3 separate regions of the Homo sapiens genome follow, and regions 1 and 2 are each linked to region 3. The links come from fine-mapping of genetic effects on gene expression. A gene starts in region 3. Each other region holds a variant in brackets. All regions are shown on one strand. Distances are from middle to middle.

What was found. PIP is the estimated chance that this variant, and not a neighbour inherited with it, causes the effect.
Region 1: its variant is fine-mapped to the expression of AAMDC in tibial artery (GTEx, PIP 0.99).
Region 2: its variant is fine-mapped to the expression of AAMDC in blood mononuclear cells (TOPMed, PIP above 0.99).

Annotation. Positions count from the first base shown.
Region 1 is chr11:78,589,689-78,597,879 of GRCh38, forward strand. No RefSeq gene overlaps it. Among named protein-coding and RNA genes, the nearest start is that of NARS2, 19 kb to the left of the region's middle. The variant C/T (reference allele first, on the strand shown) is at 4,588.
Region 2 is chr11:77,986,016-77,994,159 of GRCh38, forward strand. INTS4 (integrator complex subunit 4) reads right to left here. Exons shown (of 23, transcript NM_033547.4): 2 at 5,093-5,284. Among named protein-coding and RNA genes, the nearest start is that of INTS4, 4.6 kb to the right of the region's middle. The variant T/A (reference allele first, on the strand shown) is at 4,800.
Region 3 is chr11:77,816,165-77,824,338 of GRCh38, forward strand. AAMDC (adipogenesis associated Mth938 domain containing) reads left to right here and starts at 4,980. Exons shown (of 4, transcript NM_024684.4): 1 at 4,980-5,077. It overlaps RSF1 (remodeling and spacing factor 1), which reads right to left and starts at 4,558. Exons shown (of 16, transcript NM_016578.4): 1 at 4,364-4,558. The coding sequence starts at 4,550. RefSeq lists enhancers at 2,939-3,912, 3,208-3,317, 3,913-4,885, 4,438-4,607, 4,618-4,757 and silencers at 3,948-4,037, 4,178-4,267, 4,858-5,017.

The DNA of each region.
Region 1 (8,191 bases), 770 kb after region 3:
CTCTTTAAAAATATAAAAATGTCCAATGGAACAGAATAGAAAACCCGGAAATAAATCCACCTATTTATGGTCAATTGATCTTTGATGAAGATACCAAAAACATCCCGTGGGGAAGGGAAAATCTCTTCAATAAATGGTGCTGGGAAAACTGGATATTCACATGCAGAAGAATCAAATTGGACCCTTATCTCACCCCATATACAAAAATCAACTCCAAATAGATTAAAAACTTAAATTTGAGACCTGAAACTGTAAACTACTAGAAGAAAACATAGGGAAATAGCTTTTTGACATTGGTGTTGGCAAAGATTTTAAAAATATAGCCCCAAAAGCACAGGCAACAAAAGGATGGGTACACAAATCGAATTGCATGAAACTAAAAAGCTACACAGCACAGGAAACAAGTAACAGAGTGAAGAGACAACCAAAAGAGTGGGAGAAAGTATTTGCAAACCATACATCTGATATGGGGCTAATAGCCATAATATATAAGGAACTCAAACAATTCAATTGCGAAAAAACAACCAGATTTTAAAATGGGCAAAGTACCTCAATAGAGACGTCTCTAAAGAAGACACAAAATAGTCAATATATATATGAAAAAATGTTCAACATTCCTAATCATCAGGGACATGCAAATTAATTAAATATCACCTCACACCTGTTAGAAGAACTACTATCAGAAAGATGAAAGACAAGTTTGGAGAGGATACAGAGAAAAGGAACTCTTATACATTGCTGGTGGGAATGTAAATTAATACAGTCATTATGGAAAACCAGTATGAAGATTCCTCTTCAAAAAATTAAAAATAGAACTATTATCATATGCTTCAACAATTCTACTTCTGAGTATATATCCAAAGAAAATGAAAACAGTATATGAAAGACATATCTGCACTCCTATGTTCAATGAAGCGTTATTTACAATAGCCAAGACACGGAATCAATCTAAATGTTCATTAACAGATTAATGGATAAAGAAAATGTACATGCACACAATGGAATACTATTCAGCTCTTTAAAAGAAGGAAATCCTGTCATTTGTGACAACATGAATGAACCTGGAAAACATTATGCTACGTGAAATAAGCAAGGCGTAGAAAGACAAATATTGCATGGTCTTATGACTCTAAAAACAGTCAATCTGAGATGCAGAGAGTAGAATGGTGATTACCAGGGTCTGGTTATGAGGAATGGGGAGATGCTGATAAAAAGGTACAAAGTTTTAGTTAGACACAAGTAAGTTCGGGTGATCTATTGTAAAAATGGTGACTACAGCTAATAATAATGTACTGTGTACTTGAAAATGGCTAAGAGAGGCTGGGCGTGGTGGCTCACGCCTGTAATCCCAGCACTTTGTGAGGCCAAGGCCGGTGAATCACTTGAGGTCAGGAGTTCTAGACCAGCCTGGCCAAGATGGTGATACCCCATCTCTACTAAAAATACAAAAATTAGCTGGGCATGGTGGCACGTGCCTGTGATTCCAGCTACTTGCAAGGCTGAGGTGGGAGAATCGCTTGAACCCAGGAGACGGAGGTTACAGTGAGCCAAGATCATGCCACTGCACTCCAGCCTGGGCGACAGAGCGAGACTCCATCTCAAAAAAAAGAGAGGAGACATTATGGATTAAAGGAAAAATAAAACACATAGCAATCAAATGTAATGCATGAATGCTTACTTGGATTATGACTTAAGTCAACAGAGAAAAGATATATTTTTTAAAGACATAAAAATAGTTCAACAGCACAGAGTATTATTTTTTGAGTTTCTCTAAGATTGATATTATTTCCTTTTTAAGTGTTTGAATATAATTCATTGTGTAGTCATGTGGGCCTAGAGCTTCCTTCATGAGAAAGTTAAATTAAATTAAATTAATTAATTATTTTAGAGACAAGGTCTTGCTATGTTCCCCATGCTGGTCTTGAACTTCTGGGCTCAAGCAATCCCCTCTCCTCAGTCTTCCAGAGTTCTGAGATTATAGGCATGGGCCACTGCACTCGGCCTATGAGACGGTTTTGAATTACAGATTTAACATGTTTAATAAATATGATGTTGTGCAGATTTTGTATTTCTTTTTCCGTCAGTTTTTGTAAGTTGTATGTTTTGAGAAATTTATCTAAGCAGCTAAATTTCTTGGCATAAAATTGTTCATATTATTCTTTCAGTGTCTGTAGGATCTGTAATGACGTCCTTTAATTCCTAATATTAGTTGATATTGAGGAATTATGCACAAAATTCTTCGCTGTTAAAGATACAATCCTAAAGAATTTATGGGTGAAATGTGATATCTAGAATTTGGTTTTAGATATTTCAGAAAAAAAATAAAACAGTATAGATGGAATAGATGAAATAGGACTGGTAAAATGTTGAAAAATATTGAAGTTGGGTAACATACACAGGAATTCATTGTACTATTCATGTTGGAGATTTTTCTATAATAAAAATGGTATGTAAAAAAGAATGGGAGAAGAGAAATTGGAGACAGGGTTTTCAAGAAGTTTTGTTGTAAGGGGAGCAGAAAAACTGAGGTGGTAACTGGTGGAAGAATGTGGTCATGAAAGCGGACTTCTTTAATATGTGAGAAATAATAGCATGTTTGTCTGGTGATAAGAAAGATCTGATTTTTCCATTAGAGCCCTTAGCATATTAATCACCATTGTTTTAAATTCCTGGTCTAATAATTCTAACATCTCTGCCATATCTGAGTCTGATTCTAATGCTTGCTCTGTCTCTTCAAACTGTGTTTTTTTTTTTGTCTTTTAGTTTATCTTGTAATTTTATTTTTTTTAATCTTTATCTTTAATTTTTTTGTTGAAAGTTGGACACAATGTAGTGGATAAAAGGAACTGAGGTAAATACATCTTTATTTTCATTTATTTATTTATTTATTTTGAGATGGAGTCTCGGTCTGTTACCCAGGCCGAAGCGCAGAGGCGTGATCTCGGCACACTGCAACCTCCGCCTCCTGGGTTCAGGTGATTCTCCAGCCTCAGTCTCCCAAGTAGCTGGAACTACAGGCACGAGCCATCACACCTGGGCTAATTTTTGTATTTTTAGTAGAGATGGGATTTCACCATGTTGGCCAGGCTGGTCTCAAACTCCTGACCTCAAGTGATCCACCCTCCTTGGCCTCCCAAAGTGCTAGGATTACAGGTGTGAGCCACCACACCCGGCCTGTAAATAAGTCTTCAGTGGGAAGTTGTATATTTATCTTATTTATCTAGTTAGAAGTTAGGCTGTGTTTACTGTTTGTTGTAGCTGTGGGAGTCAGAGGCAAAAATTTCCTCCGGTGTCCTTGTTTTTGTCTCACCTGTTATCTTTGGATTTCCCTAGAGACTTCTTGGGAGGTCTCAGAAATAACATGCAGTTATTTCTGTTGTACTCCCTTATTATCATACAGATAAGTCCTGTTGATATAGTGGTGAGGTGTGGAGAGAGAGGAAGAATTCTATAGACCTGTGATTAGGTCTTAGACTTTAGCGAGCCTGTGCTCCTGGGCTGCACCTTTCACAAGCGCTTCTCAGTTCTTTCCCGCTTTAGTTGGCAAAAAGGGGCTGGAGTTGGGTATTTTCCTTCTCCTGTGATTAGTCTCTGGTAAAATCCAGTCAGCTAGCCTCTGATAACATAGTTTCCATTGAGAGCAGGCTTTGTTAAGAAGAGCTGGACACTTTGGCATATTTCGAATGGCTATTTTTCCCCTCCTCTTGCCAGAAGCATGAGGATTTTTTTTTTGTTTTTTTTTTTTTTGCTGATCTTCACCCTGAGAACCTGGTAGGGTTCTTGGAGGTAAAACTCACGAAAGTGGAGGTAAAATCCAGTATGACTGGCCACATGCCCTGGAGTTTTTAACTTTCAAACTTGTCCACACAGAGCCTCCAGCAATTCATCTATTATAGTTTGGGTTTTTCGTTCCCCAGTACTCGTTCTTGCAGAGTTTTCTGCCCCTGGGCTTCTATTCCAGTAAGTTGTGATTCTCTGTATTTACCCATTTGTCTCTCCAGTTTGGGGGACAGAAGTGTGCCCTGTTACTTCAACTGATTTTCAGTTTATTTAGCTTTTTTATTGTTGTGAAGACAGGAGTGATGACTTCCAAGCTCCTTACTTGCTAGACCAGAAACCGGAAGGGAAAGATCTAGAAGAGAGGAAAACTTGACACAGGAAAGACAGAAGAAAATTCCTAGTGTTGATGAGTTTGAATTGGTGAAAGGGGGTGTGATCTAGTGTTCAAGTGGAGGACTAGCCTTAGCTGATAACATCATGAGCACTTTATATTAGCACAGAGAAGGTAGAGGACATGGGCGCACATGAAGATTGATGGGTATGTGGGGGTATATATGATAGTGGGAACTTGTAGAGACATCCTCTTTAATTTGCTTCTATTTCACAATGAAATAGGAAGGAAGGTTTTCTGTAGAGAAAGACGGATGGACAGACACACACACGAGAGAGAGAGAGAATGGCAAAGTAGATGTTAGAGTTTTGAAAAGAGGAAAAAGATTATGAAAGAATTATTTGGATCATTTAGGAGAGTGGGAGAGTTAATGGACTAGAGAAAGATTGCCAGGCAGAATTGGGGCCCATCTGAGG[C/T]TTATGGGTCACAGTTTTGAAGTGATGCCCCTGGACTCAGAAAACAATATTTTAAATTCATTAGAGTAAAATGTACTAGTATTATCCAATATCCATTTTCCTCCTTTTAATAACAGAAGCCCAGAATTGTAGCTGGGTACATGTCCCTCCCCCACCCCCCACAAAGACATTTCTCAGCTTCCGTTGCAGGTAGGTGTGGTCATGTAACAGTCAACTGTGTTCTGGTAAATAGAATATAGCACAAGTGGTTTGTGTAATTTCTTGAAACTGTCTTTACAAAATTGTATCAGAGAGAAAATTATGTCAATGGGGGAGATCTGATCTAGTCAACCCCCGTCTTGCCTTTATTTTAGCCTTTGGGCTGCCTTTGATTATTCCTGGGCTGGCTTTGGGAGACATCTAGTTTAAAGTTTAAGTGAAAATAACCCTTCCCCCAAAACTCAACCACCTTTATAAAGCTGAGAGGTCACCAGGCTAGGAGGATAGAGGACCCTGAATTTTACTAAGGTGTAGACATAAATGACTGCCAGCCATTATTCCAGAGGTCATGAGATTTGCAACCTCCCCAGTTGCTCCTGCAGATAACGTCACTATTGTAGAACCTAAGATTGGCCTTTTGAAATATCCTCTCAGGTTTCCTGCATGTCTGACACGTGTGACCCCATCAGGATCCACAGACCAATGGTGGCTCCATCTGGACCTACCCACTGCTCCTGTCCCACCCAGAAGCCACTTAGCATGCTGGAGGGTCATTCCTGACACGCCTATGATTGTACCCCTGAGCCAATCAGCAGCCACCCTCACCCCTTCTACCTTTGAAAAACCCTAGCCTCTGAATTCTTGGGAAGACTGATTTGGGTAATAATAAAACTCCAGTCCCCCATTCAGCCAGCTCTTCATGAATTAAATTCTTTCTCCACTGCAATTCCCTTGCCTTGGTAAATTGACTCTATCTGGGCAGTGGGCAATAAGAACTCATTAGGCAGCTGCATTCTAGGAAGAATCATTAAAGGGAGGGTTTATCACTAAGAGTGAGGATGGAGAAAGATGTAAATGATTGAAAGAGAGAAAAGCCATGAAAGTATTATCTAGGAGGGTAGAAGAGTGAACAAACTGGAGAAATGTGTTATGATTATTAGGCAGCATTAGGAATTTCTCTTGGAAGTTAGTGGCCATGATGGAAGGACTATTTAACAGGCTATTTTATGCGAGTTGGTTGACATGGAGGAAAAAACATTTTTTTTTCCTCTGCTTTCATGCCACAGCAATCAACAAAGAAGACTTCTGTGACCTCTGGTTGTTAGAGTAGTTAGCGAGGCAGACGTGAGCAGGTCAGGAGAGGCCCCCTAACCAACCCCCAGGAATGTCAGGCGACCATCACGTGATCGTCAGGCGGTTGTTAAACTGTCTCTCTAAAATGATAATTGGTCACAGCTGGCATCAGCGGACGACCGTCTCCCAAAAGATAGAAAACATCTTGAGCTGGTGATCAGCAGCTTCCACATAAGATCTCAGGAGTTGGGCAAGTGGGCTTGAGTATGTGCTCTAACCGGCAAAATATCAGATGTATGACCTTCCTTTGGGGGTGTTAGACTGGTAAAATAAAATCGCCCCTACAGAGCATGTGCACAACCTCAGTAAATGCACTATGCATGTGGTCACCCCCTTGAGTGCTGACTGACACCTCGCATGCAGCGGTTGAACAACAGCCCACCCCAAGGGAAAAATTAAGGGAGGAGAAAGTAAAGCCCCCAAACCATGCCAACGTATAAAACCCCAAGTCAAGGACCAAATGGGGTACTTGGATCTCTCAAGTTGCCCGCTTGTCCCTCTTCCAAGTGTACTTTGCTTCCTTTTGCTCCTTTTCTAAAACATTTTTTTTTTTAATTTGAGAGGTTTTATTAGATGGTGGGAGTTTGAAGCTTTTAATTTTTTCTAATTTTTTTTTACAATGAACACATACAGCTTCTGTAATCGTTAAAGTAGTCATTTTAAAATGAATGATGGATTTTTAGAAAATTTTTTCTTAAGCACCTACAGTGAACTAGGTACTGTTTTTGATGTTTGTTCACATCGCTGCATGGAGCTTAATGTTCTAGCATGGATGGAGACGATAAATAATGCTCCCTACACATAATAAACACATTATTAGGATATTAGAATCCACTGAGAACATGGAGAAAAGAAAAAGTAAAGTAGAGCAAGGGGGGTTGGGAGTGCTCAGTGGGGTGGGAGTGCAGATTGCAGAATGGGCTTCATTGAGGAAAAAGCAGGAAGTCAGGAGTTGGCCCTGGGCATGTTCCAGGTAGAGGAAGCAGTGGGTGCAAAGGCCCTAAGGAGGAAACACAGCTGGGGTGTTCCAGCCACAGCCAGGAGTCTGTGCTGGAGCAGTGATTGGGAAGGTCAGGTCCACAGGAAAACATGACACTTCTTGGTTTAGATGATTAAGAAAGGTTGCCTTGTTTTCTTCCTGTCTACCTGATTTGTTCTGTTTCTTCTGCAGTTAAAGGACACTTACTCCCCCCACCCCCAACACACACACACACACACACACACACACACACACACACAAAATACATACATTAGGCCTCTAGTACCATATTAATTTGCTAGGGCTGCCATAACGAATTAGGCAAAGAGAAAGAGCTGAAAACAACAGAAATGTATTGTTTTACAGGTCTGTCGGCTAGAAGTACAAAATCAAGTTAGGGCCATGCTCCCTGTGAGACACGTCAGCAGGAAACCTTGCTTGGCTCTTCCTAGCTTCTGGTGGTTGTTGGCAATCCTCAGCGTTCCTGGGCCGCAGCTGCATTCCTCCAATCTCTGCTTCCATCATCACCTGGCATTCTCACTGTGTGTCTGTGTCTTTACTTCGGTATCTTCCCTCTCCTTTTTTTTTTTAAAGGCAAATGAAGAAAGTATTTATTTATACTAACACAGTATAAAGCAATTAATCCTCGCTGTTAGCCATAATTAAATTCCTCAAAACGAAGAATTTCAACTTGTGAGCTGGAGCAAATCTCCCTCTATGGCTTCCTGGGGAGGGCAGGCATCTTCTCCGGCTCCTCTCTGCACTGCCACACTGGGCTGGTGCTACTCTGTTCCTATTGATTCCAAAGAGTTCCTCAAGGTGAGAGACTGGTGAATTGACTTTGCAAGTTTTTTTTTTTTTTTAAATTATACTTTAAATTCTGGGATACATGTGCAGAATATGCAGGTTTGTTACATAGGAATACATATGCCATGGTGGTTTGCTGCACCCATAACCTGTCATCTACATTAGGTATTTCTCCTAATGCTATCCCTCCCCTAGCACCCCCCACCCCAAACAGGCCCCGGTGTGTGATGTTCCCCTCCCTGTGTCCATGTGTTCTCCTTGTTCAACTCTCACTTATGAGTGAGAACATGCGGTGTTTGGTTTTCTGTTCCTGTGTTAGTTTGCTGAGAATGATGGTTTTCAGCTTCATCCATGTCCCTGCAAAGAACATGAACTCATCCTTTTTTATGGCTGCATAGTATTCCTGGTGTATATGTGTCACATTTTCCTTATCCAGTCTATCACTGATGGGCATTTGGGTTGGTTCCAAGTCTTTGCTATTGTGAA
Region 2 (8,144 bases), 170 kb after region 3:
AAAACACTATGGTCAACAATCTAGAACTGGGTCCATCTGGCATCCCTCCTCATTTCCTTAGGAGCTAGGGTCCACTTGATTAATGCATGCAGCATGGACTGGTTAAAGTGCTTGAGATCTGACATCAGAACACCTGAGTTAAATTTTGCTTTTAGACATGACAAAAGATTATGTTTTTTAAGAGTCTTCGCCACATTTATGCAGCCAACAGACACATGAAAAAATGCTCACCATCACTGGTCATCAGAGAAATGCAAATCAAAACCACAATGAGATACCATCTCACATCAGTTAGAATGGCAATCATTAAAAAGTCAGGCAACAACAGATGCTGGAGAGGATGTGGAGAAATAGGAACACTTTTACACTGTTGGGAGTGTAAATTAGTTCAACCATTGTGGAAGAGAGTGCGGCAATTCCTCAAGGATCTAGAACTAGAAATACCATTTGACCCAGCAATCCCATTACTGGGTATATACCCAAAGGATTATAAATCATGCTACTATAAAGATACATGTGCACGTATGTTTATTGCGGCACTATTCACAAGAGCAAAGACTTGGAAGTAACCCAAATGTCCACCAACGATAGACTGGATTAAGAAAATGTGGCACATATACACCATGGAATACTATGCAGCCATAAAAAAGGATGCGTTCATGTCCTTCGCAGGGAAATGGATGAAGCTGAAAACCATCCTTCTCAGCAAACTATCACAAGGACAGAAAACCAAACACCGCATGTTCTCACTCATAGGTGGGAATTGAACAGTGAGAACACTTGGACACAGGGCGGGAAACATCACACACCGGGGCCTGTTGGGGAGTGGGGGGCTGGGGGAGGGATAGCATTAGGAGAAATACCTAAAGTAAATGATGAGTTAATGGGTGCAGCAAGCCAACATGGCACATGTATACACATGTAACAAACCTGCACGTTGTGCACATGTGCCCTAGAACCTAAAGTATAATAATAAAAAAAGAGTCTTCACCACTTAAAGATATAAATCAAAATTTATGATTAAAATAATATGATGCCAGGAATTTATTTTCATAAGAATCTGGTGGAGAAGGTGAGGGTAAAGAAGTAGAAGTGGATTGGGGAAGAGGGAAAATGAAACAAGTTTGGCCACAAAATGATAATTTTTGAAGCCAGGTAATGGGTACATGGGAATTAATTAAACTATTCTCTTTACTTACATAGTATATATCTGAAATGTTCCATAACAAAAGGTTTTTTAAAAAAAAAACCCAAGTTCAAATCCATACCTTCCATTTACTAGCTGGGTGACCTTGGATACTAAACAGCTCTAAGCTTAGTTCCATATCTGGAATTTAGAGATAACAATGGTGCTGTCACCAGGATTAAATAAAATATTACATATGGAAAGTGCTTTCAAACTCTAACAAGCAATATAATGTTAACTGCTCTAAGAAGTATTATTATAGATGATTATTGGTAACAGATCTTTAATATAATAATAATGGTAGATATTGCTAAGAAAAAGACTAACGGAAAATAGATCACTGAGAGATCGAAAACTTCTTGAGAACAGAAATCCTGATTTTGGTCAGATGTGGTAGCTCACGTCTGTAATCCCAATCCTTTGGGAGGGCCAAGCAGGAGGGTTGCTTGAGCTCAGGAATTCGCGACCAGCCTGGGCAACACAGAGAGACTCCATCTCTACAAAAAAAATTAAAAAGAAAAAATTAGCCGGGAGTGGTGGCATGTGCCTGTGGTCCCAGCTCCTCAGGAGGCTGAGGTGGGAGGATGGCTTGAGCCTGGGAGTCCAGACTTCAGTGGGCAGTGATCACGCCATTGCACTCTAGATTGGGCAACAGAGCAACACTCAAAAAGATGCCAGGCACAGTGGTTCATGCCTGTAATCCCAGCACTTTGGGAGGCTGAGGTAGGTGAATCGCTTGAGCCCAGGAGTTTGAGACCAACCTTGGTAACATGGTGAAACCTCATCTCTATCAAAAATATAAAAATTAGCCAGTCTCATAACCCAGTCTCTAGATAGATAGATACGATTTTTTAAAAAATTTTTTAAAGAAAAGAACAACAAAAAAAGAAAGCCTGATTTTATTCACGTAAAACATAAGTGAAACATTTATAATGTCCCTTCAATGTTCCTAGGAACCTGCCAGGCACTGGGATAGAGACTAATGGATCTGCAGCCTCTGAATTTACGGAGCTCAAAGTCTGAAGGAGATAGACACATATGGCAAACAATTGCAACGCATAAGACTTAACAATTGTGCTAATGGACACCGTCCAGTGCCCAGAACAAAGTCTGATATATATTTGTTGAGTAAAATGTATCACAAAAGCATCAATTAATTCATTTATTCATTCAACAAATATTTATTTTACCAGGCACTGTTCTTGATTCTGTAGAAACAACAATTAAAAAACATAAAAATCCCTGCTCAAGGGAAGCTTATGTTCCTGCATGGGGAAATGGACAAGGAACATAATTAACAAGAAATTATACAGAATATTAGAAGATGGTAATTACTATGGAGAAAACAAAATCAAGGAAGGGGACTAGGAAGTGCGGGGTGGGGATAGGCAGTTTCGATATGAAACAGAAGGGTAAAGGAAGACCTCAATGTAACGGTGACATTTGCATGCTGATAGCTGCAATATGAAGTACAAGTCACCATTTATAACATAGTCTTAAAATTGTCAAAAATATGCTTAACTTAAATCTAACAAAGCCTATAGATCTAACTTTCAGTTCATAGTAAATACAGAGAACAGAGGAACAAGTTAATCCTTAAAGAAGTAAATGAATTCAGAAAACAAGACATTTTACAAAAGAACTGTCTCAGTTTCTTCATCAAATCAATGTCACCAAAATAGTAACTGTTGTAGATTTTTGAAAAGACTGAATGCCATGTGGGGACCTGGTTTGCATTTTGATTTGAATACATCAACTATAAAAAGGTACTGGGAGAACAACTACAGAAATCTAAATATCAACTAATTCTTAGATGACATTAAAGAATTACTTAACTTTATTCATTAGGGTTAGGTGGCTATGTTAAAAAATAAAAAGTCCCTCTACTTTCTCATAGCAGTGAGAAAAAAAAAGAAAACAACAAAAAGGTATCCCTTTTTAATAGATATGTAATGAAATAATTAGAAAAAAATGACATATCTTTTTAAAAATTCAACAAAACAAGGCTGGGCGCGGTGGCTCACACCTGTAATCCCAGCACTTTGGGAGGCCGAGGCAGGTGGATCACCCGAGGTCTGGAATTCGAGACTAGCCTGGCCAACATGGTGAAACCCCATCTCTACTAAAAATACAGAATTAGCTGAGCGTGATGGCGCACTCCTGTAGTCCCAGCTACTTGGGAGGCTGAGGCAGGAGAACTGCTTGAACCCAGGAGTGCTATTACACTCCAGCCTGGGCAACAGAGTGAGACTCATCTCAAAAAAAATAATAACAAAATAAAATAAAATTCAGCGAAAAAATAGAGCAAATTTGGCAAAATACTAATAACTGTTAAATTCTAGGAATGGATATTTGGTAGGTCACTATAGTATTTTATCTACTTTTCCATAAGCTTAACAATTTGGGGGCTGAGTGTGGTGGTTCACACCTGTAATCTCAGCAATTTGGAAGCCCAAGGAGGGTGGATTGCTTGAGCCCAGGAATTCGAGATCAGCCTGTGCAACATAGCAAAGCCCTGTCTCTACAAAAAAAAAAAAAAAATACAAAAATTAGCCAGGCATGCTGCACATGCCTGTAGTCCCAGCTACTCAGAAGGCTGAGGCAGGAGGATCAATTGAGCCTCGGAGGTCGAGGGTACAGTGAGCCGTGATAGCACCACTGCACTCCCGCCTGGGCGAGAAAGCAAGACCCCATCTCAAAAATAATAATAGTAATAATAATAATGATTTTTGGGCTGGGAATGGTAGCTCACGCTTGCAATCCCAGCACTTTGGGAGGCCAGGGTGCATGGATCACTTGAGGTCAGGAGTACAAGACCAGCCTGGCCAACACAGCAAAACCCCACCTCTACTAAAAATACAAAAAAAATTAGCTGGGTGTGGTGTCACACACCTGCGGTCCTAGCCACTCTGGAGGCTGACGCAGGAGAATCACTTAAACCAAAGAGACGGAGGTTGCAGTGAGCCAAGATTGTGCCACCACTATACTCCAGGCTGAGTGACAGACCAAGTCTCAAAAAAAAAAAAAAAAAAAATGCAAAACTTAGCCTGGAGTAGTGGCACGTCTGCAGTCCCACCTACGTGGAAGGCTGAGCCAGGAGAATCACTTAAGCCCAGGAGTTCCAGGCTACAGTGACCTATGATGATGCCACTAAACTCTAGGCTGGGTGACAGTGAGCCTCTGTCTCAAAAACAGTTTTTTTGGCCAGACGCAGTGGCTCACGCCTGTAATCCTAACACTTTGGGAGGCCAAGGTGGCTGCATCACTTAAAGTCAGGAGTTCGAGACCAGCCTGGCCAACATGGCAAAACCCCGTCTCTACTAAAAATACAAAAATTAGCAGGGTGTGGTGGCACGTGCCTGTAATCCCAGCTACTAAGGAGGCTGAGGCAGGAGAATCGCTTGAACCCAGGAGGCAGAGGTTGCAGCGAGCCAAGATTGCACTACTGCACTCCAGCATGGGCAACAGAGCGAGACTCTGTCTCCAAAAAAAAAAAAAAAAAAATGTATTTTTAATTAAAAAAGAGGGCCACTGCAATTAGATATGAGGGCCATGAATTAGGAAAGGAACAGCAGGACCACATTCCAGAGATGAATGGGTCATGATTGATATT[T/A]ACTCCTCTTTTGTGCTTCCACTGTACTCTGCACATACTGCACTCACAGTAACTTCAGCAGTATGATGCACCTTATCATTGACATGTCTTGTTTCCATCTACTATACACAGTATAACTTTCTGAGGTCAAGATCTGTATCTTTTTTATCTCGGTATCCATAGTACCTAGCACTTGGAAGACACTCAATAAAAGCTTCCTAATGAATACCCTATTTATTTGTAATATTAACCATTCTGCAGACATGATACAACTCCCATGATATACTCCCATCAGATCCTCAAGATTTTCTTACCTTGTAATAATGTTCCAAGAGAATCCTGACTACTCCCTCTACGCTTTCCGCCTCGACAGGCTTCCTGGCAAACTGGAGCAAGTATTGCAAAGCATCTGCTGGGGAGGTAGCTTTACACAGATCTATGTGGAGTGCTGCAGATTTACTTGGTTTTGTTAGTCGGAGTTTCTTAGTAGCAATTTCCTCCTGTGGCTGCAAGGGGTAGAGAAAATCGAAAACACAGAATCTGCAAATTTAACTTTGCCTCATTTGGTGGAAATGATTTTCCATTATACCAAATAATATATTTAGCTGATGGACTTAGGAAAATACAGTATTATAAACCAGAAAGAGTACCGGGTTGGTGACAAGGCCATGAGTCTCAATTTTGCCTTTACCAGTTCCTATGACTTTAGGCAAGTCATTTAATTTCTCCGAGTCTCAGTTTATGTCTCTGTAAAATAGGTATACTTTTTTTTTTTCTTAGAGATGGAGTCTCTCTATGTTGCCCAGGCTGGTCTTAACTCCTGGGCTCAAGCAATCCTGGCACCTCAGCCTCCCAAAGTGCTGGGATTACAAGCATGAGCCACGGTGCCCAGCCTTACACTAACATTTTGCTCTACCTATCTCTGAGGATTGTGGTAGCCTTTGGGTTTAGAGGTCACACAAAGGATCTACTCCATTTTTTTGAGACAGAGCAAGACACTGTCGCCCAGGCAGGAGTGCAATGGTGCAATCTTGGCTTGCTGCAATCTCCACCTCCTAGGTTCAAATGATTCTCTGACTGACACCCAACATGCTGGGATTATAGGTGTGTGCCACCTCCACCTACTACGTTCAAGCGATTCACCTCCCTGACTCCCAACTAGCTGGAATTACAGGTGTGTGCCACCACACATGGCTAATTTTTGTATTTCTAGTAGAGACAGGTTTTGCCATGTTACCCAGGCTGGTTTCGAACTTCTGGCCTCAAGTGATCCCTCTGCTTCAGTCTCCCAAAGTCCATTCTTTATTAGAAAACAAATATCAGACATGGCATGGTGGCTCATGCCTGTAATCCCAGCACTTTGAGAGGCTTAGGCAGGCGGATCACTTGAGGCCAGGAGTTCAAGACCAGCCTGGCCAACATGGCAAAACCCCATCTCTACTAAAAACACAAAAATTAGCTGGGGGTGGTGGTGTATGCCTGCAGTCCCAGCTATGCAGGAGGCTGAGGATTGCGTGAACCCAGGAGGCAGAAGTTGCAGTGAGCTAGGATTGCGCAACTGCACACCAGTTTGGGCGAAAAGAGCGAAACTCCATCTCAAAACAGAAGAAAAGGAAACAAATATCCGATGGGCGTAGTGGCTTACACCTGAAATCCTAGCACTTTGGGAGGCTGAGGCAGGAGGATCCCTTGAGCCCAGGAGTTCGAGACCAGCCTGGGCAACATGGTGAAATCCTGTCTCTGTTAAAAAATAATAATAAAATAAAATAAATTTCCTTACCACCTAATGGTGCGTTTTTATGTACTGAGCAATCACCTCCTTACAAATTCACATTTCTATAGAAAAGAGAGTAGAATTATTCTAGACAAGAACACAGTATGACATGATAAAAAGAATAAGGACTTTGGAGTCAGAGGAATTTGTATTCAATTACAACTTACTAGCTGGGGAAGGCCTTCTTCTATAGGAGGGCATACCAATACTTTATTATCACAGAGCTAGTCGATAAATCTGTTATTAAACATAACTTTATTATACGTATATGTAAGTGCTAGGCACATATCAGTTCTCCCTCCTCATCTTTTCAGCGGAGAAAAAAGAACAGAAGCACTAAGATCTCATTTAATCACTTTATGTTAACAACTGATGAAAAATTAAGTGAAGAAATTAGCTCTTCCCTTAAAATTCTTAGCCATTTCTATCCTAGTCCTCTCAAACTCAGTTTTCAGTCTTATCGAAGCTGTAGTTAGGTCAAAAGCTAGGAATTTTTTCCCTAAGTATTATATAAGGGAGAGGACAAGCAATATCAACTGTCATTCAACCACCAATAACACTTTAGTGAGCCAGGCCCTATTGTCCATCTCCAGGACACGGAGATGAGCCAGGCATTAGCTCTGCCATCAAGGACCTCCGACTGGTGGGAAGATAGGTACACCGGTAATGACAGCAGCACTGAACAAAAAGTACAAATAGATTAGTACCACAGAATGCTACAGAAACAGGTGAAGAAGAGACTAAGCTCTCGCTGAGGTTTCATTTGGGTCTTGAAGCACAAATGTTAAGTCCACTGGGTGGAGAACAAAAAGAAAGGGAAGAATGGCATGTATTCTGTGAGAAGAGACAACCAGTGCAAGAGTTTTGAGATATGCAAACACAAGAACACATGGCATATCTGGTCATGTGAGGATGGGTGGAAGAGGGCTGAGCAGTCTTGGGAAATGGGAACAACAGAATGTTGGGAAGAGAGGAAATCACATTGTGCAACAGTGCTAATGTTCTTAATGCCACTGAACTTTATACTTAAAATTGTTAAAATTGTAAATTTTATATTATGTATTGACATATTTTGTATTTGTATTAACATATTTTAATGCTGGATGAATGAATCCATGTAATGTTTAAGGATCAGTATCCTGCTGGATGCTCTAAGCCTTGCCACTCTACAAGTCTAAGGATCTAAGAATGCAACCAATGCACTGGTGTAAATTTGGGGGCATGTCAGGAATGCAGAATCTTGCCTCACCTCCTCTGCTTGACTTATCAAATAGAATCGACATTTGAACAACGTCCCCAGGTAATTTGTATACACATTAATATCTGAGAAATAGGACATCAGGATGATTTAGGATCAACCCTAGCAACATCTACGTGGAGACACATGGAGCATCACTGACTCCCGACAGGGACTCTGCCCACCTGTCACAACTTCATGGTGAGGAAGGTACTGCCCTCCTTCCTAGGTGAGCTGTTCTACCAATAGAGAGCTCTTCCCCTATGAAGTCTGTGACCCCCGCCTGCTTAGACTGCGCCTGAAGGAATTCTATAGACCCTTCTTTCAGCCCCTTAGAACCTTGTGTATATTCCAA
Region 3 (8,174 bases):
CCTAACCAGGCTCTGGCCCCAGCAATACTACTATTAATGTATGTATGCCCTACCAGTGTCTACCACTGTAGACTCATGCAACCTCTAGTACATGCACCTGGTAAAATCTTTTGTTTAAATCAACACATGTGGCCCCAGTTACAGTAATCACCTTTCCACTTTATCAAATGCACCTAAAAATATATTGTTACACACAGATCAGTTACAGTACCAGTAAGAGAGACCATAGTAAGTTATAGTTACAATTCCAGTTAAAAAGGCATTTTTTTAACTTTGATATTTTCACTTCGAGTTAAAATTCAAATCATTAAATGCAAAAATGAAACAAAAAACTAATGGCTCAACTTACTTAATATCATACAACTAATTCAGCCAACCATAGTATAAACTATGAGAATCCTAACACATTATCTGTATTTACCTTAATAAATTTATTAGATATATGTAACATCTCAACCAATATCCAGACTGTTTTTAAAGAATACAGTAGTATAGTTTCCTCTTGAAAAGAAATATTCTCTGCAGGAGAGGAAAGATACTTAGGAGCCTTGGGTGTCAGGGATCTCACAAAGTCAACGTCAACTTTATCCATAACCACCATCATCTACCTCCAGTTAGGAGAAACCTGGGGAAGTCCACACAAAGCACAGAATTGGGAGGACTAAAGTAGACTGCAGGGAGAGGAGGATAAAACACCACCTTCATTTGGCACATCCTTTTATAACTAGTATCAACTATAAATCTAAATTTTTTGTTGACAATTTCAGCATATATGTGGGCTTTTCAAATAAGAATTTGACTAACACCAACAGTTAGCTGTATACACTTGAAATCTCTCTCTGTAGCTTGATTTTCCTCCTGAAAAATAAAGGCAATGACACAATAGTCCCTTCTTTCTTGCCCCGAAATTCAATGATAGTTTCTAGAGCAAAGGTTCTCAAACATTCTAGCTTCACGGCACCCTCAGTATCTCAGTAATTTTCTCACAGCAGCCCTAGGCCAGAAATAATAACACTTCCACTTATTAAGTAGTCAGTAGCCATGTGAAAAAATAACCTAGCTAAATTTCAACAAATAATGTTTTTACTTCATTCTTAACCATAATTACTTGTGAAATGTGTATTACTGTTGGGCACTGCACAACTTTTCAAACCTTGGAATCAGAGTGGACCCTGCTATCCTCTTTCCTGCTGCATACTGACTTTTTTGTGAATTTTACCACAGCAACCGCTAAAAAACCAGCTTCACAAAGACATATCATCTATAGAAATGTGGCACAACCTTGAAACCATGAAGTATGTCAAGGCAGTAGCTCACCTGGCAACCAGCAAATTTCGGCTACCACTGTATCCTACTTGAAAATTTAAACTATCAGATGGAGTTGGCAACAATGCTCTAGGGTGCCTTGGTGCAGTTTGGAAACCATGATACTATGGCAAGGTATATAATTTTGTGGCTTTGGACTCAGACTTGGGTTGGAAATCATATTCTACCATTAACTATAGACTCTTAAGCACCTTAATCTATTGAGCCTTAGTTTCTATGCCTGCCAAATAGGAATAATACTATCAACTTCAGAGAACAGTTGCAAGGAACTAAATCCATGTCTTTTAACTCTTGTACACTACAACTCTTTCCCAAAAAGACTCAGTTCAAATCTTGTTGGCTGAGCCACTATCATTTTATCAGCTATTTGAAACAGGCTGAAAGTTTGTAATAGCTGATAAAACGACAGAGGTTCACCCAACAAGCCAACTTTGATGATGATATCATGGTTCATCATCAAAGTTCTGAAAATCGTTTCCCTGCACAGTAACAGCATTTCACCTGCAGAGACTTCTCATTTGCCAAGTGTTCTGAACTGTGTAACATTAATTAATAATTATTCTAAGATCACCTTATGATAGGATCTATTATTATCAGTCCCCTTAGCAACTCTATACCAACGGTAATGCAGTGGCTGAAATAAATGATCCTTCTTAGCCCAGGTTACCTGTCATTTTTACTTACTTAGTGAACCACTATTCAATTCAACTGACTCTAATATTGTATTCCTGTGATATTAATATAAACTAAATGCACTGGTCAAAATACCTAAAATAAATGTAGATTCAAGCAATCTCATATACTACCCAAAATACCACGCCATCCCAGAAAACCTATGCATTTCAACTTGGTCCAAAGAAATTACCAAAACAATTTACTAGCCATCCTTTCCCCAAATGCCCACAGTTCGTTCTCTGAGAGATACATTACTATCACTTCCCAAGGCATCCTAAAAGCAACTTACTAAGGCATCCTACTTCACAATGACTACCTTCTTAAAAATTAAAAAACGGGCCAGGCTTGGTGGCTCACGCCTGTAAAGCACTTTGGGAGGCCAAGGTGTGTGGATCACGAGGTCAGGAGTTCGAGATCAGCCTGGCAAACATGGTGAAACCCCGTCTCTACTAAAAATACAAAAATTAGCCGGGCTCGGTGGTGCACACCTGTAATCCCAGCTACTCGGGAGGCTGGGGCAGGAGAATCGCTTGAACCTGGGAGGCGGAGGTAGCAGTGAGCCCAGATCCTGCCACTGCATTCCTGCCTGGGCAACAGAGTGAGACTCCGTCTCAAAAAACAAATAAAAATAAAAAATATAAAAAAGAATGTAAATACAATTTGATAATGAAATTACTACAATGGGAGCTTAATTTTTAAACAAATTCTGTGAGAAGCCTTTATATAATGTAATTAGTCACCCTCCTATTTTGTACTATTTTTTAAATTAGCCTTTTGTAAGCCAGTTTGTTACAGGTAGAGGGAATGTGGACAGGTAAGAACAGATTACTAGGCTTATATTATAACTGCTGTATTAATTTGAGTCTTCGGTAGCCATAACATCATACAGATTCTTTATAGGTAATATTCTGAAGAACTTCATACTTGGCGCTTCCTAGCAATGCAAATAAATTCAGTTAACAGAAACTTCTTCATTTACATAGAGAATAGAAGAGCGACCCTGCTTTCTTGGAAAGGAAACAGCTATCTGTCTTGTACAATAACCAATCCACTTTGGCCAGCTAATATGGACAAAAAAAGAGACCTATTTGGAAAACGTTTCTTCTCCAGCCAAGGGCTGTTTCCAGATAAAGGCAATGCTCAGAGTATAACAAAAAAGCCTTCTCTGAGGAAAGAAAAGTGCCAGAAAAGGAGAGGCAGGGATCGGGAATAAATGGGGGTGAGTATAAGCACTCAGTGTGAAGGCTGGAGGCAGCAGGCGCAGCGCTGAGATGCTCCAGCAAAAGAACCAGCAGCAGCAGCAGGAAGTTTCAATGGGGCCGGGCAGAGCATGCGCCCTGCACCCGCGCGGTGGCCTTATGTGGAAGGAGCACCACTTGCGAACACCAATAATAGACCAGCGGCACCAGAGAGAGAAACATGAGCAACAAGCACCTTCTTCAACTGTTTCCCCCTCCGTCAGAGCCCCTCCTCCAGCTTACATACTAACCACCCCACCCTACCGTGCAAATGGGAGGGAGACGACTTCTTCGCCTAAGCCCGGCTGCCAAGATGAAGGGGGAAGGGATTGGAAAAGTGGGGAGATGCTCGCCTATTATTTTGGGGGAGGTGGGGAGAGGAAGGAGAACTATGGAGGAGGAATTAACCCTCTCCTCTCCACAGTGGAGCTGAACCGACTTCGCCCCCCTACCGAGAATGGAGAAGAACCCCCTCCCGTGGGGGAGGAGCAGACCTCCCCACTTCAAGGAAGGAGTTTTAGGGGTTAAAGCAGCCCTCGAGGGGAAGGGAAAAGGGACAAATCTCTCAGGGGAGTTCCCAACAGAGGGAGGGAGAGTTGAGTGTCCGCTGGCCCCCGCCCACCCAGGTGAAGGGAGATAAGGAGGTGTCCGGAGCAGCCGAGCCCAGCCTTCCCCGAGATGGTCGGGAAGACTGGTGGGAGGAGGGGAGGGAGTAAGGGTGGGGAGGAGGAGAAAAGCGCAAAGCTGGCCGGAACCTGCGCTCCCCTTCCCCCGCCGCCAAGGGGGAGACGGGGTGGGGGGCCGCCCTCCGCCGCGGAGAAGCAGTCCCCGGGGCTGCCGACCGGCACAATGACCCCTCCCCGCCTCCAGCCCACACCTAGCCCGCAACGCCTCCACCTCAGCTCCCCGCCCGGCCGAGTGGCCCTAGGGGGCCTCCGCCCCGCCTCCCCACTGCCCAAGACCCCGGGGGCTGGGCGGAGAAGACCAGCCCGGCGGAGTTGCGTCCCAGGGGGAAGACAGAGCCGCGGAGGCCCGAGCCGCGAAGAACCGGGGCGCCTGTGAAGAGCGGAGAGTAGCAGAGCGCCAGGGCCGCTTCCCGCCGGGCGTTCGGGCCCCTCGCTTACCTTCTCCGTTGCCGACGTCCGGCGGCGGCGCCTGCAGCACCCGCTCCAGCTCAGGGAACGGCAACTCAGGCAGGTCTAGCAGCGGCCCGTAGCGCTCCAAGAAGGAGCAGACTACGGCGAAGTTGGGGCACGAACCCGGGCAGCCCGGAGGAGCCATCACCGCCGCCGCTGCCGCCGCCGTCGCCATTTTGAACTGGAGGATGGAGGAGGAGGCGATGGGGGGGCGGGGGAAGTTGTGGTGCCGAGGGATGGCAAGGCAACCTTACAGACGACAGGAGGCGCTCTCAAGTGGGCTCCTCTGCGGATCCCAGCGTCTCAGGGACGGCTCCGCGATCCCACAATACATCGGCGGCCCGGAGCAGTCGAGAACCGAGTCAGACGGGAGACAGAGCGGCCCTCGGCGCCTTTCACTTTCCGCCCTCTTTCCGCCCCCTTCTCTCCTCCCCTTCGGGCTTGCCACTGCCTCGTGTGACAGGGGGAATGAAAACAAGGGAAGCGGGGCGGGGAGGCGGGCTGGAAGCGGGAGGGGCGGGACTTCTCGAGAACAATGGCCAATGGACGCAGAGGGGGCGGGGCCTCGGGCGCTGTTCAACTGCAGGGCGTATTCCCGGAGGGCAGTTGGGGAGCGCAGATCCCGAAGCAGCGCTGGGAGCGTAAGTGCGGGCAGAGCACTGCGCCGTTTGGGAACGCAACTTTGAGGAGACAGTGCGGTGGGTGAGTTTGCGGGGGAATCCTGAAACTGGGCCACGAGATGGTGGAGAGGTTGAGGAGAATTAATAAACAGAAAAAGGGAATAGGGCGGGGGAAAGCACAGTTGTGGGAGAAGGTTGGGAAGGGGAAAGGTAGAGGTGTGCCCTTAATTAGGGGCTGGGCTGGGACCTCGGTAAGATGTCTCTGTGGAAGTTTGCCGACGGGGTATTGCTCTCTGCTGGGGTACAGGAATCGCAGCTTTGCTGGAAAAGCAGGATCTGAGGGAACGGAACTCTGGGGGAATCGTCGGAGTGAGGAGTTGGGGCCCTGCTGGGAGAAGAGGATCTGAGGAGACCAGGCTCTGCTAGGGGGCCATGGTGTGAGGGGAAGGGGCTCTGTTCAGGGACCAGAATCGGAGTGTGGGCTGGGACTCCATTGAGAGGCGGAACATGACAGGAGACGGTGGAGCAGCGAAAAGTTTGTTAGAAGACAGGGTTCCACTTCGGGGCGGGGCGGGGGCAGTGAACATTCCCACAAAGAACGCCAGAGAGAAACTACCAATAATGTAAAATAGAATGTGCAGCCTGAGAAGCAGCAGTACACGTTATGCTTAGAAGCCTGAGCTTTGGATTCAGCCAGGCCTGAGTCCTAGCGGGGCTACTTCATGACACTGTGGAGGTTTCTTTATTTCTTTGAACTCCTTAGAGTGGGGTGATAATAGTACCTACATCATACGGTATTACTAGATAAATCACAGTAAAGTGATTAGCACAGTGCCGTAGCACATAGTGAGTACTTTAAAAATATTAGTTATCAAAAAAGGAGTTCCTATAATTTAGACTGAATTCCGCTATATTTATTTAGTCTATAATTTATTACTTTGAGAATTTTCTGAGTGCATTTAAAACTCAATGTAGTACCTAATTCCTAAAAAGAATTTGGCCGGGCGCGGTGGCTCATGCCTGTAATCCCAACACTTTGGGAAACCGAGGTGGGTGCATCACCTGAGCTCTGCAGTTCCAGACCAGCCTGGGCAACATGGTGAAACCCCGTCTCTAGTAAAAATAACGAAAATTAGCCGGGAATCCTTGGGAGGCTGATGCAGGAGAACCCCTTGAACCGGGGAGGCGAAGGTTGCAGTGAGTCGAGGTCGCGCCACTGCACTCCAGCCTGAGCGACAGAGCAAGACTCCACCTCAAAAAAAAAAAAAAAAAAAAAGAATTTGAAGCAAGGTACAACACAAACCATGTAAAAAAGAGAAATCTGTAATTATAGAAAGATAAGAAATAGATGGGCAAATAATTATATGAGTAACAGGGAAAATGGTCACACAAACACCGAATTTTTTTCTTCATTTCCAGGTTTTAAAAAGGGGAAAAACCATAAGGGTGTGTATTATTCCCATTATCTAAAGAAAGAATACTCAATTTATCAAGAGAAAAATTCTATATTGTAAGAAGAATTTATTGCCTTGAATAGTGATTCATAGTCTTGAGTGGTATACAAACCGTTTTTAAAGGAAAAAAGTTCTTTTGAAACTTGGCAAATACTTTTGAAAATTTCACTGTAAGAAATACTGATGTAAGAAATCAAAGTCTAAAGAACACTGTAAATGTACTTAATGCCACTGAAGTATACACTTAAAGTGGTTAAAATGGCATATTTTATGTTACATGTATTTTACGACAATAAAAAAGCTTTTAAGAAATTAAAATCCGCCGGGCGCTGTGGCTCACGCCTGTAATCCCAGCACTTTGGGAGGTCGAGACGGGCGGGTCACGAGGTCAGGAGATCAAGACCATCCTGGCTAACGCGGTGAAACCCGTCTCTACTAAAAATACAAAAAATTAGCCGGGCGTGGTGGCGGCGGGCCCCTGTAGACAGCTACTCGGGAGGCTGAGGCAGGAGAATGGCATGGACCCGGGAGGCGGAGCTTGCAGTGAGCCAAGGTTGTGCCACTGCACTCCAGCCTGGGCGACAGAGCAAGACTCCGTCTCAAAAAAAAAAAAAAAAAAAAGAAATTAAAATCCTACTTCAGGAAAATATCTTTATGGTTATGAATTATCACTGCCAAAGAAGTTTTAATTTAATAAGTCGGAAAATATTGTTTTTAAGCAATTACTGAAATGAAACACAAAACTAAACTAAAACATTTTTATAGAATTCCCAAACGGGCAAGTGTATATCTCTTGACCCTGGGGACCTGAAGACTCCAGTTTAAAAATAATCTGGGCGAGGTGGGGTGGCTCATGCCTGTAATCCAAGCACTCTGGGAGGCCGAGCAGGAGGACCCCTTGAGCCAAGGAGTTCGAGACCAGCCTGGGCAAGGTAGTGAGACCTCATCTGTAATCCCATGTAGTTGCCACTGCACTCCAGCCTGGGCGACAGAACTACACCCTGTCTCAAAAAAAAAAAAAAAAAAAAAGAATAATTTGACCCAGAATACAGTTTTAACAACAGTTTTGTGGAAACATACAAAGACTTTCATATACTGGTTACTTAACTGACCTTAAATAAAAGCCAGGTACAGGATATTTTAAAATAAAATTGTATCTTTGTGAAGGAATTTCTATGGAAAGAACCTTCAAACCTAAAAGGAAGATTTATTATGTGAACCTTGCCTGTACTTTCTATCTTTGCTTCTAGCTTTTGCAGCACTTCACTTCCCACATTCCAGTGAGGTTGTGAAATAACATTCTAAAAAAAAAAAAAAGCTTTATTACTATAGTTTTCTTTTCTCACTGCTCACACTGTTAGTCAAACAGACTGATAAATAAAGGTTAGAGTTTCTGCCTTTTCTAATCTAGATCGGCAGGGAAACAGAGTCCTTTGGCATCAGAAAGTTATATCCACCCAAAGATAAGAAGTGTTTTGCTACAAAGCAAGGTTTAAGCATGCCTTCCTTCACTAAAGTCTGTTCTTGAAAATAAATGACACACACCCATAATGCTATCATCACTTCTTGCTTTCCTGGGCTAAGAGAAATTGTGGAATACAGAGCTTAACGACAATTTATGTAGTTATATAAGTGAGTTATATTTATCAGACTGGAATGTAAAGGTGCAAAAAAGAGTAGCTATTTTTAAAACCTGTATTTGATTTATTGCTACTGCCATGAAGA